Homo sapiens: one gene and its partners. The protein of the gene in region 1 interacts with the protein of each later gene in a biochemical or structural test. Each region holds a gene or a part of one and is shown in the gene's direction. Other genes may lie near its edges.

Region 1 (3,653 bases):
TTGCAGGTGATGGATTCCTGATAAAATGTGCTTTCTCATTTTTGCAAAAATAAAAAGTAGTCAAGAGCATCAGTAATTAAAACAACTTCATTTTTGTAAGAAGAAGGAATTCTAAATTATTGGCCAAACTGGTAAAATCTGCTTTTAAAGAACAATTAATCTAGATGAGAATATTTTTTTCAAATGTCTTCAGTAAGCACTCAAAAGTGATGTCTTTCATTTAATACAGGAACTGCCCATTGGGATAGCATTAGTTCCCATAATTCGCAGATGTGGATACCAGGCAGTTTTAACAGAATAGTTTTCCTACTACTTTCTCAGGCTCATCTTTTGTAAATGATAGGAAGTATTTAAGTATATAGACCATTTTAATCACTGGAAAACCTGATCAGAAAACAGTTTCATCATTAAGGCTGTCAGGTTTCTTTTGACATATTTATTTATTTAAAGATAGTGAGAACTCTGGGATAGGGAGGTTTTCTTTTCCTTATTTGGAGCCCACATGTTGTGAAACTGATCTGCTTACAGTGCTTTTCTTAGATTTCCTTTATTTTATGGAGTTTACTTATTTGGACTCGAATATTTTAATCCCAGAACCAGTGATCAAGTTGATAATTTCTGAGACACCTGATGTAGGTCTGTTTAGCTTAATAAAGGTGTAGATTTGCATCTTTGGAAAGGTTTTGTTTCCCTGTTAATTAGACTAGGGAAGGCATGGCTTCCTGGAATACTGTATCTTAGTTGTTGACACTGCCTTACCTGTTGTGAGGAATGCATTGAATGTTTGTTCACTGATAAAGAGGAATTTAAGGAGAGGCTCAAACACTCAACTTAATGTCTTTTGAATTTTAAGTTTTCTTGCTAACATGGAAATTGACTATGTAATTCTCATTTATCTGAACTGCTAAGCTCCCAAAATTGAACTTCATAGGTAAATTATTTGGAGATTTTGATCATGTTAGTATTATTTTTCTGGTTTATATGCTTTTCCTAATTTACTTCATGTTTCTTCTTTAGCATGAGAAAAATTACTTGCCAAGAAACTCAACTAAACTTGAGCCTTATAACTGGGATAAAATAGTTGAGGTGGATGGAACAGGAAATATGTCTGTTACTTTGCTGGGGGAGGATGGAGGACAAAAACAAACCTATTCAGTAGTCTGAGTTGATGCAATTGATGCAATACTTAGAAAAAGAACAGCCTTTTTTCTAGTTTAAAATAGTTTTTCGAGCCAGGTACTGTGGCACTCGCCTCTAGCCCCTAGCTACTTGCATCTTCAGTCCTAGCTACTCCAGAGGCTGGGGCCGGAGGATCACTTGAGCCCAGGAGTTCAAGTCTAGCCTAGACAACATAGCAAGACCCCTCCCCCTGCTACCCCTCCCCCATCCCCTGCCCCCCACCCCCCTTTTTTAAAAAAAAGCTTTCTCAGTAAGTTACTAGTACCTTTTGCTTTCAAATATTCAGAACAGTCAGGGCCATACATATAGTTCAAACACCTGAAAGGTCAATACATTTCTAGAAAAGACTCCTTTTAAGAGTGAGAATTCTGTAACATGAAGCCACATGGATATTGTAAGGCACTTCTTTGGACGCTTCCCTTAGGTGAGTGACTGTAATAAATCCCAAATGTGCATCCTCCTCCCTTAAGTGTTCTGACACAACCAAGTGGTGCAGTGAGCCTGTTTCCATATGTTGTGCAAAGCTGAAAGTGATAACGTGGAATGTTGCTTCAGTTTATTAGTTATGTTCTGTGTTTGGTTAGGCTGTGACCATGTGGCCTCCTCATGCGTTTAGCCAAAGTATATTGAATGTTATCAACAGATTTGAACATTTCCAATGTGTGACGCACATCTTGTTCCCAAAATTTTAGTGTTTCCTGCCTAATTTGAAGGAGAAAAGGAGAGTGTGGGATTGGAATCACCATGGGAATCCATCAGTTTTTTACCTCTAAGTAAAGAATTCCTGTTGGTTTTAGGCCAAAGTCAAGCAGTGGAATGAGCCATAGGGAGAGGGACACTGCTGATACCTGTCTATGGCCTAAGAAATGTAGCTGCAGAAGTTAAAATGCATATATATAAATTAGATAAGGAAAGCATGGTTTTTAAGTAGTTCCTATAGAATTTAGACCTAATAGTTTCTGCTTTTTATGCGCAGTTCCAATGATTTAAGGAATCATTAAGTAATGATATGTAAACATAAATATGCATAGATATTAACTTCTCTTTAATATTCTCTTAAGCTGGCCAGGTGTGGTGGCTCACGCCTATAATCCCAGCAGTTTGGGAGGCCGAGGAGGTGGGTGGATCACTTGAGGTCAAGAGTTCCAGACCACCATGGTCAACATGGTGAAACCCCGTCTTTACTAAAAATACAAAATTAGCCGGGTGTGGTGGCACGTGCCTATAACCCCAGCTACTCAGGAGGCCAAGGCTGGAGAATCGCTTGAACCTGGGAGGCAGAGTTTACAGTGAGCTGAGATCGCACCCTTGCACTCCAGTCTGGCCAAAAAGAGCGAAACTCCATCTCAAAAAAAAATTCTTTTAAGTTCTCTTAATATCTCTTAACATTAAGTTCTCTTAATATCTGTGCATGTTTCTGTTTAGATATTATTACTTAATGATTTCATGATGCCTCTACTTCACAGCAAATTTATTCATCCAAAAAATAGATCACATGAGACCCCCTGATTTATACTAATTTATACTTAGTTTATTCGTTGCTTTATTTAATAAATACTTCTTAAGCACTCATTAGGTGCCGGGCACTACACTAGCTGCTGGATAGGTAATGGTAGACAAACCATTCTTAGCTTTTGAATGTGTAGTCCATCTTGTGGGAGAGACACATTAGGTTTTGAATGTATAGTCCATCTTGTGGGAGAGACACATTAAGAAAATAATAACAATGCAGGCATGTAATTAAGTAAGTTCTAAGACACAAAGCTAGGGGAGAGGATAGAAGAAAGACCTGCATTTAGCGTGAGGGTGAATTGTGTGTGTGATCTTCAAAAGCTTCCTGAGGAAGAGGCATCTGAGCTGAGATCTTAAGGGTGAAATGATATTAATTAGGGAATGGGGGCTGGGCAGGGAAGGGGCAGAGGCGAAGAATATTTCAAAGGGGCTGACCTAAACAGGAAGGGATGTGCCTCCTAGGAAGAACTGACAGAAGGTAAGTGTGAACTAGGCAAGCCACAGGGATGGTGTAAGATGAGGCCTCAAATTTGATAATGTAGAAGGCATCAAGAACTGCCCCAAGGGCCACGTAGGGTGAAGGGTCAGATGGGTAGGATAGATAGGAAGTGCTCTGCATTTGGGATAAGAAAGAGGGACCATTGGGACTGAGACGATTAGCAGGGCTTCAGAACAGATACGGGATTGGAGCTTGTGTCAAAGAATGGAGAGATCGGGAAAGAAAGGTAGGGAATTCTAGATATGAGGGAACACACATGAAATTTATTTTCCCCTGTAAATGCTGTGTCTGCTTTCATTTCTCCATAGCACAGTCATACCTCCTTTCTCCCTCTTTCCCTGTTGCTGACTGTTAGGGGCTGAATTATGTCCCCCAACATTGCTACGTTGAAGTTCTAACTCCTAGTACCTCACAATGTGGCCATATTTGGGGATAGGACCTTTAAAGAGGGGGTTAAGGTAAA
Region 2 (3,653 bases), on another chromosome or scaffold:
CACGCCATTCTCCTGCCTCAGCCTCCCAAGTAGCTGGGACTACAGGCGCCCGCCACCACACCTGACTAATTTTTTATATTTTTAGTAGAGACGGGGTTTCACCATGTTAGCCAGGATGGTCTTGATCTCCTGAGCTTGTGATCCGCCCGCCTTGGCCTCCCCAAGTGCTGGGATTACAAATTTTGTATTTTTAGTAGAGACGGGGGTTTCTCCACTTTGGTCAGGCTGGTCTCCAACTCCTGACCTCAGGTGATCCGCCTGCCTCTGCCTCCCAAAGTGCTGGGATTACAGGCGTGAGCCACTACGCCTGGCCAGTGCTAGAGGTTTTAAAGTGGTGGGCTAGACTCCTGTGATGGTAGATAAAAAGAAAAACTGTGGTGTTCAGCTTGGCAGTTTTGAGTTTCAAAAGGCCTCAGCTTTTGTGAGGTTGGCTGTTACAAGTGCAGCCAGAGAGCACCAGGCACACACATGTGGTTCCGCAGAACTAGAGTTGTTACTCTTCGCCGCGAGGGAAACACGCACCTGGGGACTGTGGGAATTCGGCCCTCACTCTTACTGGCCGGGAGCAGGGGATATTTGGTGATTTTTGTGGTTTGTATGATGATCTTGGATTTGTCACTACTTAGAAACGATTATGAGTTGTTTTTTTTAAAGTTTACTTACTTTTGGTCCTATTTCAGCACAGTCACACAGGTGACCTTCTCTGATGTTAGTGTTCTGCGAGATTATTCTATTCAATAGTAACACCTCCACCAGGGCGAAGCTGCGAGTGCCAGGCTGGTTCTCATACGTCAGGGCTGCCTGACCCTTTTACAGGATTACAGGCGTGAGCCACTGCGCCTGGCCAGAATGTCTGTGTGTTTTAAAATTCCAAACTTGAAAGTAAAATCCAGGTGGATAGCATTTGGAAGAGAATAAAACGAAGTAGAAACAACACTACTTTTTTGTAGTGAGATCTCAGCTGTCCAGATGCCCGCCCTGTCTTACTCCATGGAAAGTGGACCCATCTGTTGTGGATGGTTCCACCAGTGGGCAGGAGGCTGTGGGAAGAGCAGCCCTGGCTACACTTACCACCGAGGAGGGAGTGGTGTGTGATGCAGGAGTAACAAAGGCGTTGAAGGCACCACGTGTGTAACAGGCACGCGGGAGTCTGGGTTAGTCAGAAAGGGGAAAGCAGTGCTCAGGTTGACTGGAAACATAGGCCGGTGACCGGAGACAGCCTGAGGCTCCAGAACACACAAGTGACCTGTGAGGAAGGAAACTGAGAGACCCTGGAGAGACACCGGTGGTGCCCTCTCAGGTCCTCTTGAGTGTTACGAGGACGGGGAAGAAATAGAGCCTCCCAGCCAGGGTCAGCCAGCACAGCCTCTGTATGTGAAGCGTCAGGACAGCGACGGCCGGGAGGAGGGGATGCTAGGAAGTGAGTACCAGAAGCACTAGACAGGGTTTTGGGAAGCTATATTTAGCTGGGGACGAAGAAGGAACAAGGAAGGAACAGGCAGATGGCATAGCACGAACGCCGGGTGGAAAGTGGAACTGCTCGCTCCTGTCGTGTGTGTCTCTTCTCCATCAAAAAAGAGGCTCTTAAAAATCGAAAGCATGCCACAGATACGATCAGAGGCTCTTTGGAAGCTGCATTTTTGTAACTGGTTCTCGATGATCCTCTCCCATGGTAAAGATTTGGCACCATATGAAGTCCTTGGGAGGACAAATCTTCAACAGTAGCCCATAGATGAAACCCAGATAGCTGTGGAAACTAATGTGCTCTTTGAATGTTAAGTCAGGAAAGCTTGAGTGGCCTGGCACGGTGGCTCACGCCTGTAATCCCAGCACTTTGGGAGGCCGAGGTGGGCGGATCACGAGGTCAGGAGATCGAGACCATCCTGGCTAACACGTTGAAACCTCGTCTCTACTAAAAATACAAAAAATTAGCCGGGCGTGGTGGCGGGCACCTGTGGTCCCAGCTACTCGGGAGGCTGAGGCAGGGAGAATGGTGTGAACCTGGGAGGCGGAGCTTGCAGTGAGCCAAGATCGTGCCACTGCACTCCAGCCTGGGCGACAGAGCGAGACTCCCTCTCAAAAACAAAAAAAAAAAAAAAAAAGAAAAGAAACCCCGTCTCTACTAAAAATACAAAAAATTTAGCTGGGCGCAGTGGCGGATACCTGTAGTCCCAGCTACTGGGGATGCTGAGGCAGGAGAATGGCGTGAACCCGGGAGGTGGAGCTTGCAGTGAGCCGAGATCGCGCCACTGCACTCCAGCCTGGGCGACAGAGCGAGACTCTGTCTCAAAAAAAAAAAAGAAAAAAAAGAAAAAAAGAAAAGCTTGAGTGAGATGAAATTAAAATAATTTTCTCATTTTGAGACAGGGTCTCGCTCTGTCACCCAGACTGGAGTGCAGTGTCACAATCTCGCCTCACTGCAACCTCCACCTCCCGGGTTCAAGCAGTTCTCTGCCTCAGCCTCCCGAGTAGCTGGGATTACAGGTGCCTGCCACCATGCCCGGCTAATTTTTTGTATTTTTAGTAGACACAGGGTTTCACCATCTTGGCCAGGTTGGCCTTGAACTCCTGACCTCGTGATCCACCTGCCTCGGCCTCCCAAGGTGTTGGGATTAGAGGCGTGAGCGCTTTTCTTAAAAGAGTTCCAGGGTTCTATGTTGGAAGAGCGAGTTTGTCAGTTTTTATTGGAACAAAGAAATGAATTGACAGCATTGTGATAAACACTGGAAGTGTCACTTCTAAAATTTGTCCATGGCTGAAAGTGGTGGCTCATGCCTGTAATCCCAGCACGTTGGGAAGCCAAGGTGGGTGGAGCACCTGAGGTCAAGAGTTTGAGACCAGCCTGGCCAACATGGTGAAACCTGGTCTCTACTAAAAATACAAAAAATTAGCTGGGCGTGGTGGTGTGTGCCTGTAGTCCCAGCTACTTGGGAGGCTAAGGCAGGAGAATCGCTTGAACCCAGGAGGCAGAGGTTGCAGTGAGCTGAGATCTCACCATTGCACTCCAGCCTGGGCAACAGAGCAAGACTCCGTCTCAAAAACGCTTGTCCTTAAGGGGTGGCTTCCCCCAGACCTACAAAGTAGCCCAGAATTGGAGGTCTTAGTGTCAGCAACAGTGCTGATTTTGATAATGCAAGTCTGTACATTCAAACCAGTCTCCCAGAACTAGGTGGAAGATAGGAACATTTCTGCATAGGAGACTTGGAATGTTCTGGCAGCATTAAAACCCTGAGGCCCGGCTATGTTCTGGGAGAGCCCTTTGGCAGGCATCATTTACAGACGGGTCCTTTTCCTGTATGCTGTGGCTTCAACTAGGCTGTGTCTGAGAACTCGGATGGAGCACTTGAAAGTGCCCGTGGCTCCCGCCTGCCTTTGCGGTAAGGGACAGTGCAGAACATCTCCGGCTGTGCCAGCTGTTGTAGATTCTGGTGGGTGCTGCCATGGGAGGAGGAGCACGTTGTTGCCCCCCCTCAGGATCTCCCTGACCTCTGTCTTCACCATCGTTGAACTTAACGCCTGCTTTTGACCAGGTAGCGTGGAGTGTTTCAGTGGCATTTGTCATCGAAGATATGTTAGAATCTATTGTATGCTTTTGGATCTCTCCGGAGGGTTAAGACAAAATTCTAATAAAGAATCGATAAGAGGTTATATTG
Region 3 (3,653 bases), on another chromosome or scaffold:
TAAATAAAAATGCCCACTTATATATATAGAGGGTGAACTTGCAGATTCTCATAAGTAACTTACAGTTGTGTACATAATGAAGAATTGACTTGCTTTATTAGTGATCCCAAAAAAGGAGCCCGTTTGTTTTATCTTACAAATTTTTCATAATTTTTTTCTTTATTTAAATTTTTTTTCTATAACACACAACTTTGTCCAGAACCCTGTTTGTTAATATTTTAGAATCGCTTAAAGATGTAGTGACAGGTTGGAGTTTACAGAGTAGGTATCATTGAAGCATCACTCAGTTTTTTAACACTTATTTTTCAGTAATGAAATTGGCAGTTACTGAGTTATCAGACAGCTCTTGTTTGAGATGAGCTAAAAGATCTACAGTTGATATTACTGGTCATATATTGCAATTTTGTGTTTCAGAGAATATTCTAAAAAACCTAATCACTGTAGACAGGATGCACTGGGATATAGATAGTTACTAACTGGACCAACTTTTCTCACACACAAATTAGCACTTTTTCTAAGAATACTGTTTATTACCCCAAAATTTTACTGTACATACTCCAATCATTGCCTTGCAGAAGAGCATCTAAGACCTGTCATTGCTTCGTACTGAGCACAAATTATTTTTCAACTTAAAAATAAGAGTCCTGGTTAATAGAGATAGGTTGACAGAATGTCAGTTGTTATAATTGACTAACTACAGTATAGTTTACAGTAGTGTGAGTCTAGGGTTTGCTCTTCAAGACCCAGTAGATCTGTTGATAATTAGATCAATTTGATGTGATATTTGATTCCTTTTAAAAATATTTGTAGCATTAACTATTGTATGCGTTCTATAAGATGAGATACCTTCCTTTAGACTTAATTTTGTGGACATTTAAATCCATACCCTATTCCTTTACCAACTTACCTGTCTATTTTAGTAACTAACTTCCTGAACATAGTCTACATTAACTAATTTCCTGAACATAGTCTACAGTGCTTTCTATTATGCATGGCCCTAAACTCACTTCTGTTTGGGATTCAATCCTTGGACTGCTTTTAAACATAATAGAATCACAAAATTCATTTAAGGGTTATTCTGTTTTTCTGTAAACAACTATGGCCTTCCTATGTGATCTCATTTGTCAACTTTTTTTTTTTTTTTTTTTTGGTAGTGATGGGGTCTCACTATGCTTGCCCAGCTTGGTCTGGAACTCCTAGCCTCAAGTGATTCCCCTGCCTGCCTCAGCCTCCCAAAGTGCAGGGATTACAGGTGTGAACCATGGCATCCCACCTGCAATGTAAATTATTTGTGCCAAAAGATAGATAAGGCCGGGCGTGGTGCCTCACGCTTACAATCCCAGCACTTTGGGAGGCTGAGGCGGGCAGATCACTTTAAGTCAGGAGTTCGAGACCTGCCTGGCTAACATGGTGAAACCCTGTCTCTGCTAAAAATACAAAAATTAGCCAGGTGCTCACTTGGACCCAGGAGGCAGAGGTTGCAGTGAGCCAAGATCGTGCCACTGCACTGCAGCCTGGGCAAGAGAGCGAGACTTGTCTCAAAAAAAAAAAAAAAGATAGATAAGTGAAACAGTAGGAATTTTAGCCCTTTACTTCTTCACTTAAAGAAATCATACTGTACTCTGTCTTTCCACCAAAGAATAGTGTAAAACCAGAAGGTATTTTAGTTAGTCATGTGTTGAATAGTGGCCGGAAAGATTTTATTTCCTAGCCAGTTTTTGCCTTTTTAGGAAAAAAGTTGACATCAGTTTCTGTGGTTGAGACTTTTTCAGATGCTGCCATTTCAGACTTGTTTCATTTAGTTTGGATTTTATTCCTTTTTTCCCCTCCCACAGTTTATGCTGTGGGTTTGTTAGGGAAACCAACAGTTTAGTGAAATAATTATGCATGTTTTTGTGTCAGTCCATTAGAACTTGAGAGCAGCATATATTATAAGGACTATTTCAAAATGTTTTCTACACACGAAAGCTTATTTTAGAATGTGTTCCAATTAAATCTAGGCTTGATCAGGTCACATGATGTGCTTAATATGTACATTCTTTACAAAGAATATCTGATTTTGAGGGTGAACTGAAGATGAGAAAGTAAATGCCATACCTATCTCTGCCACTGTGTATTGAGAGTGATTTTGAAGCTATTTTGGGATACGCTTTTGGAGGCCTTTCTGTAGCTTTTTATAGTAGATACAGAGCTGCTACTACTTTGTGTAACTGGTGAGTGGTGGATTGGGACTCTTGGGCCCTGGCTTTCTTTTTTTTCCAGTCACCCAATTTATGGCTTTCTAAAAACATGAAGACCTGGGGTAAAATTAAAGGATGGAGGTGAGGAGAGCCCAGAATTCAAGGAATTTTACCATCCAGTTATTTTCTCATTTTTCTACTCCTGCTATTCATCCCTAATATCTTAACTTTTTTCCTAAAAAATGAAGACCAGCCTCTTTTGTTCTGGTCACATGTTAAAGGACTTCCCAAGGTCAGAGGCTTCATTATTGCCTCTTGAGCTTTTTAATACTCTAAAAATGTTTTAGTTTGAACCTAAAGAACATGTCAGTTTCTCACTTGCTCTTACATCGCCATGATCAAAACAAAAAACTAGTCTTAAAATACCAGAGACATTACCTAAAATGGCCATGGGTTTAATTAACACATTTTGGGGAAGCATTTGATTTGTATTTACATCTTATGACTATTTCAGTATATTACTGTGCTGAGAGAGAAGTTATTTGTTGTTGTTGTTTTTAACGTATGCCCTGTAGCTTGTGGAATGAAACAGTTTATGATGTATTTTTTTTTAGGTGAAGGCAGTGTAAATAAAATGTTCTCATTTATTGTTTTTCATACCTAAAAGCTTATTTAAATATGAACATTTTTCTGGTTAAAAATAAATATAAGTAGAAGTTAGACTATTTTTCCCCATACCTGAGTGGCTCCTTTTGTTTTCCTTCCATAATGTGCACATCCTGCCTTGAAAATAACCCTGCCTTAATGATGTTAACGATGAAATTCTGATCGTTTATTTCCCTCTTTTCATAACATCAAATAGATTCAGAATTCAGTAAATATTAATTGAATATCTATTGTGCCAGGCAGTGTTCCAAATGCTGAGGATATAGCAGTCCATAAAATAGACTCAAATCCATCCTCTCATGGAGCTTAAATTCTGAACAAAATAAGTAGAAATGAGATTTGTTAGTAGTGCTGTGGAGATAAAGCCAGGGAGTGGGGATAGGGAGTGTGCAGGGTAGGGTTGAATGGGGTTTGCAATTTCAGTTATGATGGCTTCACTGAGAAAACATGAAGATCTTAGGAGCTGAGGGAGCAAGCCATATGGATATCTTGGGGAGGAAGAGGAAGTACAAAGCCCTTGAGGTGAGCGGATGCCTGGCACGTTGAAGAACTACAAGGAAGCTAATTTTTGTCTGGAACAGAGAAGGTTAGGGGATGGAGAGAGAACAGCTGAAGATAAGTCAGAGAGGTAGGTGGAGTGAGGGCATCATATAGAGCGTCTTTTGGGGGCCCATTACAAGGACTATGACTTTTTTTTTTTTTTTTTTTTTTTGAGACGGAGCTTCGCTCTTTTGCCTAGGCTGGAGAGCAATGGCATGATCGGGGCTCACCGCAACCTCCACCTCCGGGGTTCAAGCGATTCTCCTG

What was found.
Region 2: the proteins of SH3RF1 (region 1) and RAC1 form a complex in vitro, tested with the Homo sapiens proteins (one study listed by IntAct).
Region 3: the proteins of SH3RF1 (region 1) and UBE2N form a complex in vitro, tested with the Homo sapiens proteins (2 studies listed by BioGRID).

The regions. Positions count from the first base shown.
Region 1 is NC_000004.12:169,264,365-169,268,017, reverse strand, and holds part of SH3RF1 (E3 ubiquitin-protein ligase SH3RF1), read left to right. Parts: intron 1-3,653. UniProt on the Homo sapiens protein: Has E3 ubiquitin-protein ligase activity. In the absence of an external substrate, it can catalyze self-ubiquitination. Stimulates ubiquitination of potassium channel KCNJ1, enhancing it's dynamin-dependent and clathrin-independent endocytosis.
Region 2 is NC_000007.14:6,394,953-6,398,605, forward strand, and holds part of RAC1 (ras-related C3 botulinum toxin substrate 1), read left to right. Parts: intron 1-3,653. UniProt on the Homo sapiens protein: Plasma membrane-associated small GTPase which cycles between active GTP-bound and inactive GDP-bound states.
Region 3 is NC_000012.12:93,414,354-93,418,006, reverse strand, and holds part of UBE2N (ubiquitin-conjugating enzyme E2 N), read left to right. Parts: intron 1-3,653. UniProt on the Homo sapiens protein: The UBE2V1-UBE2N and UBE2V2-UBE2N heterodimers catalyze the synthesis of non-canonical 'Lys-63'-linked polyubiquitin chains. This type of polyubiquitination does not lead to protein degradation by the proteasome.